2 linked regions of the Homo sapiens genome follow. The protein of the gene in region 1 interacts with the protein of each later gene in a pairwise test. Each region holds a gene or a part of one and is shown in the gene's direction. Other genes may lie near its edges.

Region 1 (5,243 bases):
AGAAATGAAACTCAGCTCTTCTTAGCTTCTTACAACAGAAGGCACATGGTGCCAACCCATCCCACTGCTGGGATATTGACCTCAATCACCTGGTTATGTTGGTGTTTGCCAGATTTCTTCACCTTAAATTCGCCATTTTTCCTTCGTTTCCCTTTGTTTCCCCAAAGGTGTTTGAAAACACCTTTGTACTAGTGTTTGTGGGGAACTATTCTAGGGTTATGCAAATAGCCTGTTCCTCATTAAACCTGTACCTACAGAAACTACCATTTATTGATGACGTCTGCCTGAATCAGCCACCTCTATGAATGTTGCCAAATGGTGATTCTTTTTTTTTTTTTTTAAGACAAGGTCTCACTCTGTTGCCATGCTGGAGTGCAGTGGCATGATCTTGGCTCACTGCAGCCCCAACCTCCTGGGCTCAAGTGATCCTCCTGCCTCAGCCCCCCAAGTTGCTGGAACTACAAGTGCACACTACCACACCTGGCTTATTTTTTTTTTTTTGTATTTTTTGTAGAGATGGAGTTGGTTTCACCATGGTGCCCAAGCTGGTCTCGAAATCCTGAGCTCAAGTGATCCACCTGCCTTGGCCTCCCAAAGTGCTGGGATTACAGGCATGAGCCCCTGCACCCAGCCTCAAGTGATGATTCTTTATCACCGTCACTCTTTCTACATTTGTTAGTTGGCATACTACTATAAGGAAGAACTTTATTTTTCTGTTATGTTTTTACTAAGAACTGTTCATGGATTCCTTATGTATTCAATAAGTTGAAGTCTCACGATTGTTTTTTATTTTAATGCTCAAATTGTGCTCAATTTGGCCAATGGGGACCCCTTGGAGCTGCCTCCTGTGTCCTTTTAACACATCCCTATTATTCATTGAGCATTTCTTTATTTTCTGGCTCCACCAGATCATCTGGACTCATCTTCTACTTTCCTTGACCTAGTTAGGCCTCCCTTTTAGTAGAGAATGGTACTTTTGTCTTATTTATATTTTATATATTTAAGGCATACAACATGATATTTTCATGTATTTATCTTGATAAACATAGATGTAATGAAGTAATTACTACAGTCAAGCAAATTGACATGCCCATCATAGTTACCTTTCTTGTGTTTGTGATAAGAGTACCTAAAATCTACTCTCTTGGCAAATTAGCAGAATACAATATTTATTAATTTTAATTTTTTTAGAGACAGGGTCTTGCTCTGTACTACAGGCTGGAGTGCAGTGGCGTGATCATAGTTCACTGCAGCCTCTAACTCCTAGGTTTGAGCAGTCCTCCTATCTCAGCCTCCCAAGTAGCTAGGACTCCAGGTGCTCACCACCATTCCCGGCTAATTTAAAAAATATTTTTTAGAGGAGGGGTCTTGCTGTGTTGCCCAGGCTGGCCTCCAACTCCAGCCTTGAATCATCCTCCTGCCTTGGCATCCCAGGTGCTGGGATTACAGGTATGAGCTACCATGCTCAGCCTCAATACAGTATTAGTAACTGTAGTCCTTGTGTTGTACATTAGTGGAAACAGGGAAAAACAGAAGATGTAGATTAAAAGGTACGAAGTTGCAGTTATGTAGGATGAATAAGTCTTGAGATCTAATATGCAATATGAGAATTGTATTTAGACACCAATACATAGGAGGTTGATGTGCCCATTGTTACTGGGGTATTATTGCTTCTAGATCTCTCAGAGGACAGAGCTAGGAAATATATGTGTATATGTGTACACACATTTATAAATTTTTCTATATTAGGCTGTGTATTATAAAATCATGATTCATACTTATACCTACAATTTCAATCTAACACCCAAAGAGCTTTCTGTTCTTCCCCCTTTATATGTTTGTACATATCTTCTCTGGCAGTTAGAAAACCTGACTCTCATTATCTTCAATATTTTTGCTTATTTGCATACAGTAACCAGTCTTACAAATGTGAAGGTCATCCTGCCTCCTCTGTGTCCACCACCTTTGCCACTGCCTCTTGTCCTCGGCTGCCAGGCCTGCTAGCCTGTGTCTCTATGTAGCTTAATCATCAGTCTCCAGTCCCTCTAGCTCACAGCTCTTCCCAGCCATAGCTCATGTCTCTATGTACCTCCCCAAACTCCCCAGCCTCACGTTGCATTCCCAGCTACATGCTGATTGCTGTGTTCTGGGGAAGGAAGAAAAGAGAAGGGAAAGGAAGAAAGAAAATAGGAATGGAAGGAAAGCAAAGAGGAATAGTGTATATATTTTAAAGTCTCATTAGATATTGCCAAATTGCCTTCCCCCAAAGTTCTATCAGTTTACATTCTCACCAACATGTTATGAGGGTACTATTTTCCCCACATTCTTGCCAACACTTGTTGGCAAGTAATAGCCGCTTGTTTAAATGTTATCAATCTGATAGCACTCCAGTTTTAGCTCTATTACAGCTCTGCCACACTTAACCCTGTATTATATGTCTCATCTCACCCTCTAGGTCAGGATTTCTCAACCTTAGCACCACTGACATTTTGGACCGGATACTTCTCTGTTGTGGAGAGCTGGCCTGTGCATTGTAGCGTGTGCAGCAGCATTCCTGGCCTCTGCCCGGTAGATGCCAATAGTACCCCCCTCCCCCAAGTCATGACTGATGCAGATGTCTCCAGATATTGCTAGGAATCCCTGGGAGGAGGAGAGGATTGGCCCTGGCTGCTCTAGATAATGAGTTTCCTGGGGGAATTTTGCATCTTTACACATGTCTTCATGCACTTCTGTCTTTGACGTACATATGCTGAACAGTGAGAGAACGTTAGCTGGACAGGGATGAGAGGAATAAAAGGTTAGGTGGAATCCACTACAACAGGACCAGTGGAACTTGTTCACTGCAAGTATGCAACTTTCCACAAATGCAAATTCCAGGAACATCCAACAGAGGGAAGTGAAGAGGAATGTCAGCAAGGTTAACTTTCCATGGATTGCTACCAGGTTATTACTTGTCTTTCTGAGTTCATTTTTGCCCCAGTTTCGTACAGACAGACAATGAGGTCTGTGGCCTATTTCAGCTGATATACTCTGTTTTGTTGATGGGGAAAGTAAAATGCTTTAGGAGAAGGTGTTAACATCATTTAACATTGTAGAGGTAAACTGAGTTTCTTCTGAGCTTTCTCTGAAACAGGCAAACTGACTAATGGTTGCTAATTTCTATGATGCATTTAGAGTTTTACTGTGATATTTTCATTTGATTATATAGATTTTCCTCCATAAACTCTTACCAAAAACTCTAAGGAGAGATGTGCTTCAAGATTTTTATTGACATTTACCACAATCATTATGTTAGAAATGCAAAATGCTTGTTCCCCGGTGCCACAAAGAAATAGCGCTTGAACATAAATTTAATTCTCTCAGCAAGGCAATTTTTACTTTCTGCGGAAAGGGTATACTCACCAGCAGTCTTGCCACGAGAGTACACCAAACAAAGGAAAAGCAGACATATTTATCCCTTACACATTTGGGTTGTCCTCACTGCTGTGTCCTGCATCCACTGGCTGGAGCCGAACCTCACAGTCTAAACTGATACCCGATTTGCTAAGAGCCTAAAACTTTTTTAGATAGGTAAAGGCAAGGGAGAACAAAGGAAAAGAGGAAGTTGCTTTTGAAAAATTTAAAGAAGTAATAACATTTCCAAATAAGAAAGGGGCATAGGCTGTGAGCTGGAACATGCCTGTGAGCATGTCCAACAGCTACATGCTTAACAAAGAGTTATTAGCACAAAGCAAGGAGGCTTGAAGAAAAATTTTAAAAGAAACTATTATTTCTAACATTTATGATTTATTATTTAACAAGAAGGGAAACTTTGAAGAGGAAACTTTTTACTTTCTGCAATTATATTTCTTCTAGATTCAGTAAATGTTTGCAAAAGGCATTAATGTCATTATGGAGAACAAATCTACGTCTTACATTTCTCTGGGGGTCAGGTGGCAGAGACTGCTTCCAAAAAGAGGCTCCAGTGGTCAGTATTGTTTAAAAAAAAAAAAAACAAAAAAATCCCTGGGCCAGAAGGATGAGGGCTGGTCAGGGTGAATCAGTCCCCAATTTCTACATTTCTTCTCTGTAAAATGGAGAATGCTGAACTGCCCATCTCACTGTGGGATCAAATGGGGAAAGAGATGTAAACTTTGAAATTTGTTCACTAGTATATCAGTGAATGTGTTTTGGTGGATTACTCCAAGATCCTGAAGGAGTGGTTTAGAGGAAGTATGGTAACATAGTAAGAATGTTAAACATTAGGTTTTCAACCCAGCTGGCTAAACCCCTCTTTCCTGATTGTACACATTCATCTGGGACTCTGGGACTAAAAGGTAATGAAAAACACCAGCTAGTGACTCTCTGACTAGATTGGTAGAAGAGAGAAGGCTTTGGCTTTAGGGTGTTATTGTGGTGACCCACCCAGTGTGAGGGAAAGGATTCTTCCTTTGGTCTCCTCTTCCCAATATTCTCTGTTGGGGTCCCTTTTCCCCAGCCTTTTGGGAACAAGCTCACCGTGGAGCTCAGTGGACTTTCTCTGACTCCTCTAGACCTTGAAGTGGACTGGGGCTTTACATTTGCTACGTCATTCACTTTGTCCCACTAACCTGACAAGTTAGATCTTATCTCCCTTTTACAAAAAAGGAAATCGAGGCTCCATTTCTCAGATCCCACTGATAATAACAATAATTAAATTAGAACTGTTTGTTAGGGGCTAGTCTAAGCACCTTTAAATCTCCTAACAGCCTTAGGAGGAAGTTACCTTTATTATCCCCGTTTTGTAGATGAGGAAATTAAGATAGAGAAGATAACTAACTTGTTGGTAAGCAAGGCTTTAAACTCAGTCTGGCTATCTCCAGGGCCATGCCCTTTTGCATGTGAGTATCTATTTTTTTCTAGCACCATTTTTTTTTATTATTATACTTTAAGTTCTAGGGTACATGTGCACAACGTGCAGGTTTGTTACATATGTATAGCACCATTTGTTGAAGAGACTATCTTTTCTCCATTGTGAATTCTTGGCACCCTTGTCAAAGATCCGTTGATTATGTATGTGTGGGTTTATTTTTGGGCTCTCTAGTCTTTTCCACTGGTCTATATGTTGGACTTTATGCCAGTACCATACTACCATACATAGCTTTGTAGTATGTTTTAAAATCAGGAAATGTGAGGCCTCCAGCTTTGTTCTTCTTTCTTATGATTGTTTTAGCTATTCAGGGTCCTTTGTAGTTCCAGATGAATTTTAGGATTTTTTAATATTT
Region 2 (5,243 bases), on another chromosome or scaffold:
TGGGGGCCAGCTCAGGTCTGAGGCTCTTGGCTTTAGTCTCTGATTTGCATGTCATCATCAGGGACGTTGTTGCGTCCCATCAGGGCCAATGGTGGTCCTTGTGCTGCAGGCCAGAGTGTCCTGTGTGTGTGTGTTTGTGTGTGTGTGTTAACATCTGTTCCTGAGTCACTTGACCTTCCAAATGCCAAAGTAGTGCCAATGGCCCCCAAGCTGGGGAAGCCCCACCTCCATCCACCCAGCTGCCTGCCTCTCCTCTGACCCTTGTCCTGTGTCTGTCTCTCTGCCCTGTCACTGCCTCTTTGGAACTCGATAAAAACTGGCCTCCCCTCAGCTCCCAGGGAAGGAAATTTACCTGGTGGCGGGAAATAAAGCGCCCAGCCAGAGGCTTCTGTTCCTCCCTTGGGTCCCAGCCGACACAGGGCTCTTGGAGTCGTGGCTTGGCATGCGGAGGGCTGGGGGACAGAGCTATTATCAGGGGATTCTAGGCAGTGCACCCCCTTGCCTCGGAGCCCACTCCCCCAGGCCAGGGCCCCACTTGGAGTCATGGTACCATATGAAGGAGACCCATGAACAGTGGAGAAGGGGCTGGGTATGTTCACCTCCCAGCCACCCCAAGGGCCTTCCACCACAGTGTGCCCCCCTGCTTCCCATGATCCTTGTATGGGGTCCTCAGGTCTTTGAATGGTTCCTCCAGCTCCCCCCACCCCCCTCCCAGTAATGAAAATCATAAACCAAGCGCCTCCTGGTCAGAGCCCTGCAGCCCCTTCACCGCTAAATGGGAATAAAGTTAGAACCGTCCTCACGAGGTTGGTGTGAAGATAACTGAGGTAATGCTTGGACAGCCCCGAACCACAGGGCCTGGCATACAGTAAATGCTCAATAAATGTTGGCTACTATTATTACTACTGTTGGTTGTATTATCATTTCCCCTCCTGTAGACTCTCTCGTCTCCCTCCACCTCCATGTTCACCATCCTGGCTCAAGCCACCATGGTTCCCCTCAGGCTCACCTCCCCGGCAGCCCCCCAGCTGCTCTCCCACCTCCAGCCCCTGGCTGCTCCAGTTTATCCTCCACCTGGCAACCACAGAGGTCTTTTCAACTCACGGGCCTGTCAGATCGCCCGAGCCTGCTTAGAACCCTTCAGTGCTTCGCCAGCCCGTGGCCCATACTGTGGCCTCTCAGGCCCTGCCTGTCCCTCCAGTTTCCTCTGACCTGACTGTCTCCATCGCTTACCAAACCCCAACCACCCAGCCTCGTTTCAGCTTCTTGCACCTGCCAGGTTCCCCTGCCTCAGGGCCTTTGCACATACCCTGCCTTCTGGAGCGCTCTTTCCTCTGGCTCACCCCTCTTTATCCCCGACACCCCACCTCAAACAGCAGCTCCTCAGTGATGCCTTCCCGGGCCCCTAGGCTGGGTTGGAGTCAGAACCAGGGCCCTTCCTGGGAGAGAAGCTCTCTGATTTCTAATAAAATGTTCATTAGCAGCCTTGTTTGATTTGGGCTCATCTCTCCTCTAGACTGTAAGCCTCTGGCATGCTCTATAGAATAGGAGCTGTTATCATGACAGATGAGGAAGTTGAGGCCCAGAGAGGAGTGCTCTACCTGAGGCCCCTCGTGAGCGGGTTAGCTGAGGGCTGGCTGGGAAACTCGTATCTCCTGACTCCTGGCTCACAGGTGCTTTGTGTCACATCGCCTCAGAGCATTTGGAGTCTGTGCTCCTTGACTCTGAGCAGGAGGCCTGGCCTCTGCCAGAAGCTTTGGAGGGGATTGGCTGAAGTCTATCAAGGAGGGAGGTGGTGGTTGTCTCAGAGGTGGGGGAGGGGGTTCAGTGGGGGCTCATTCCAGGGTCCACTGCCTGGGCTGAGGATCTCAAGGCCTCCACGACAGCTGAATATAATGCCTCTGGCTATTCTGAGCGGTCTCATGACCAGGGGATTCACTCTAGACCAAAAGGTCAGGGCCTTGAGCCACTGCCTCCCATCAGCTCTGGGGCCAGCCTGGCTACCACCCCAGCGTGAGCTCCCCTCTGCTAGGTGCAAGGTTAGAGGAAAAGGAGGGCCTGACAGGCTGCAGGGGTGCTTTGCTCTTCAGTCCTTATTCAGGGGAACCATTTAGGTGGTAGGGACCACTTCACATATGCATGGGACTATTGCAGGGAATGGGTGCTCCCAGGCTACCTCTAGTCAATATTTTCATTCAGTGAAAATAAACAGGCTCAGAGAGGGAAAGACACTTGCTCAAGACAACACAGGGAATCAGTGAGACTCAAACTCACAGCCTAGGCCTCTGGTCCCAGGGCCTGACCATCTGAATTTCTTTTGGCTCTCAGTTTTACAAGAACACCAAACCCCACCTGGGCGTGCTGTTCTTCTCTTATCTACTCCCATTAATTTCCTTCCTGGGGGAAGTGGAATACACAGATACCTGCATTCCAAGGACACGGCACAGCTGATTGAGACCTTCTCACGTCAGCCAACCCAGACTTGACCCAAATCCTTAGGATTCCCCAAGCAGGATTTTCCAGAACCCCCTTCCTTTCTTGAATCACGCAGTGTCAGACACTGTCTTAAGGACTTGATTTATATATCCTCATTTATTAATAATTCTCACAAGGCTCTCAAGGCTGCACTATACTATCACGCCAATGACACAGACAAGGCTGCAGAGGCTCAATGAAGTTAAGTAACTTACCCAAGGTCACTTAGCTCATGCGCGGTGGAGCCAGCAGTCAGACCTCAGTCTGTCTGACGCTGGAGCTCTATCTGTAACTATTACACAGCACTGCCTCCTGTCCATGTTCCAGGGATGGTGAGGCCTGTGGCTTGCTGTGCCCCAGGTTTGAATTTCCGTCTGGGTCTCTCCCTCCCCACCATCCACTCTTTCCCAACAACCTGTCCAGAACCTGTCAGCAAGTTCTGGCCCCTGGGTAATGGCAGGTGAGGGCCCTGCCTGGCCAGGCCATGGGCTAAGAGGGCGCTCTGTCAGTCCCAAGGAAGGTTTTGTGACAGTGCCTCAATTGTCCCCCCACTCCCATCCATGCAGCCCCTGGGACTCCATATGGCCTAAAGTGAAATGCCAGGAGGATTGGGAGGATCAGAAGCTGCTTGTGCAGGGCGGCACATGGTGGGAACGCTGGCCGCCCCTCAGCTCGGCACTCCAAGGCCTTCTGCCCTGGAACCCAGCCACAGCTCCTGCGGCTCCCTTCCGCCAGCCTCCTCCCTGGTCCTCATTGGCAGCCCTTTAACCTCTGGGGTTTTGGTCATCTATTCCCCTCACTTCAGTGTCCTCCCTGCTTTTTGCTGAACGTGAAAATCCATCCCTTAAGGTTCCTCACACTTAGCCTGGCTGCTCCTGCCCTCGCTGACGTCATGTTTTTGGGAGTGAGGGGTATGCACTGGGCACTGAGTCATCCAGTTTGTGAGATGTGAGCTGGTGATGAGTAGGTCAGTTCTGGAGGCTGGGGGCTGGGGACAGGCGGGCCCTCAGGATTAGAGACCAGCCCCGGTGTGTGGAGAGATGAGGCCACAGGCAAGACCCAGGTTGTAGGCATCAGACACCTGGATTAGAGAGGAATCTAGCCAGGCTGTGAAACCAGCTGGGCTACCTTGAGCAAGTCCTGTGGCCCCTTCATCCTGCAGTTTTTCCACCTGTAAAATACAGAGGTCGTGCTAACTGACGGCTAAGGCTCTTCCCAACTCTGACATTCTGGGAGTCCAAGAATTCTAGGCTTCAGCTTCCCAGAGGAGCTGGGGAAACCAAGCCAGTCCTCCCCTATTTCTCCTTCTCTCTCCCAGCCCAGCTCCTCCCCAGGGCACGTGTGAGCAATCCTGGCAAAGGTCCTGGCCCAGAGCAGGCAGGAGCCCAGCAGGAAGGGGTCTAAAAAGCTTCCTCCTACATTCATTCAGCCTGCCTCATCCTGTCCTCACTCATTCATTCAAGGCATAGTGATCGCACCCCTGCCTGACGGGCTCCCCCAGCCCTCTGGCAGGCACAGACCTGGGGGGATCACCTCTTTTGGGGGTGCTTGCTCAGGCCTATGGACAGCACCCATTGCCCGCTTCTCCAGGCCCTTCTCTTCGCTTCCTGCCCTTAGGGAGCTGCAGAAAGGCCCACTTGGAGCTCCTGTGTGCCAGGCTGTGGGGTCTGGAGCAGGGGCAGTGGGGCCAACTTCTATGGTGTAGGGCTGCTGTGGGGAAGGGCGCAGGGGATGGGTGCTGTGCTGGAAGGGCCAGGGCTGGGTAGGGGTGTTTGCGATGGCTGCTATGGGGGATGGAGGGGTGGCTGCTGGAGGACTCCCACCCATGCCTGACCCTCAGAATTACCTGGGATGCTTAAAGTTCATACTCCTGGGAAACTCGATTCTTAGATCAGGGAGGGGGAGAATGTTCCCTTCACCCCTCAGCACAGCTGAGGCCACTGCTGAGTGAGGGTACATCGCTGCATTGGGGCCTGAGAGGTGTGGGCTCCTTCCATTCAAGGTGTGGCCCTCTGACCAACAGCAACACCATGAGGACATTTGTTAGACGTGAAGCCTTTCAGGCCTCACCCCAGCCCTGAAACCGATTCAGAATCTGCATTTTCACTCCCCAGATGATTCATGCACGGTGGAGTCTGAGAAGTGCTGATGCAGGCAGCGGCTCCAGTCGAGGGCCAGCCTCAGGACACAGAGGGCTGGATGGGCGTGTGTGGGTTGGCAGAGTGTCACAAGCAAGCCGCTCCTTCCTGAGGCTGAGGCTTCGATGGCAGGGGGACTGGGCCTGGGGTGAGGCCCCATCACAGCCATGGCAACCGCATCCATCTGGTGGCTCCCACTGGTAGACCTTGGGAGTCATCCTGGACTCCTCTCTCTCTCAGACATCAACCAACCCTGTTGTCTTCATGTTTCAAGTACACTCGGAATCTGAGTGCATCGCACCCCTCCACAGCTACCCCCCCGTGGAAGCCCCTGCCCTCTCTTGCCTGAGTTCTTCTCTCAGCCCCAGCTGCCCCGCCCTTCTCTCAGGGCAGCCAGGGCCGGCCTGGCAAAGTGCTATCGGACCAAGTCAGCCCTCCGCTCCATCTCACGCTGGGGTCTGGGCTTCCTCAGAGGATGCAGGCTCCACTTGAGTGCCCCACACCCAGCATCTCCCTCTGCTGTCTGCTTCTCTCTCCCTCCCTCCCCCAGCCTCCATGGCTTTCCTCCCCAGCGCTGCCCATGCTTCTGCCTCAAGACCTGCGCTGCGCTGGTCCCTCCACCTGGCATGC

Evidence for each region. The genes of interacting proteins can lie anywhere in the genome.
Region 2: the proteins of LPAR3 (region 1) and KCNC1 interact in binary tests that used the Homo sapiens proteins (3 or more experiments, as listed by UniProt).

The regions. Positions count from the first base shown.
Region 1 is NC_000001.11:84,882,473-84,887,715, reverse strand, and holds part of LPAR3 (lysophosphatidic acid receptor 3), read left to right. Parts: intron 1-5,243. UniProt on the Homo sapiens protein: Receptor for lysophosphatidic acid (LPA), a mediator of diverse cellular activities. May play a role in the development of ovarian cancer. Seems to be coupled to the G(i)/G(o) and G(q) families of heteromeric G proteins.
Region 2 is NC_000011.10:17,740,520-17,745,762, forward strand, and holds part of KCNC1 (voltage-gated potassium channel KCNC1), read left to right. Parts: intron 1-5,243.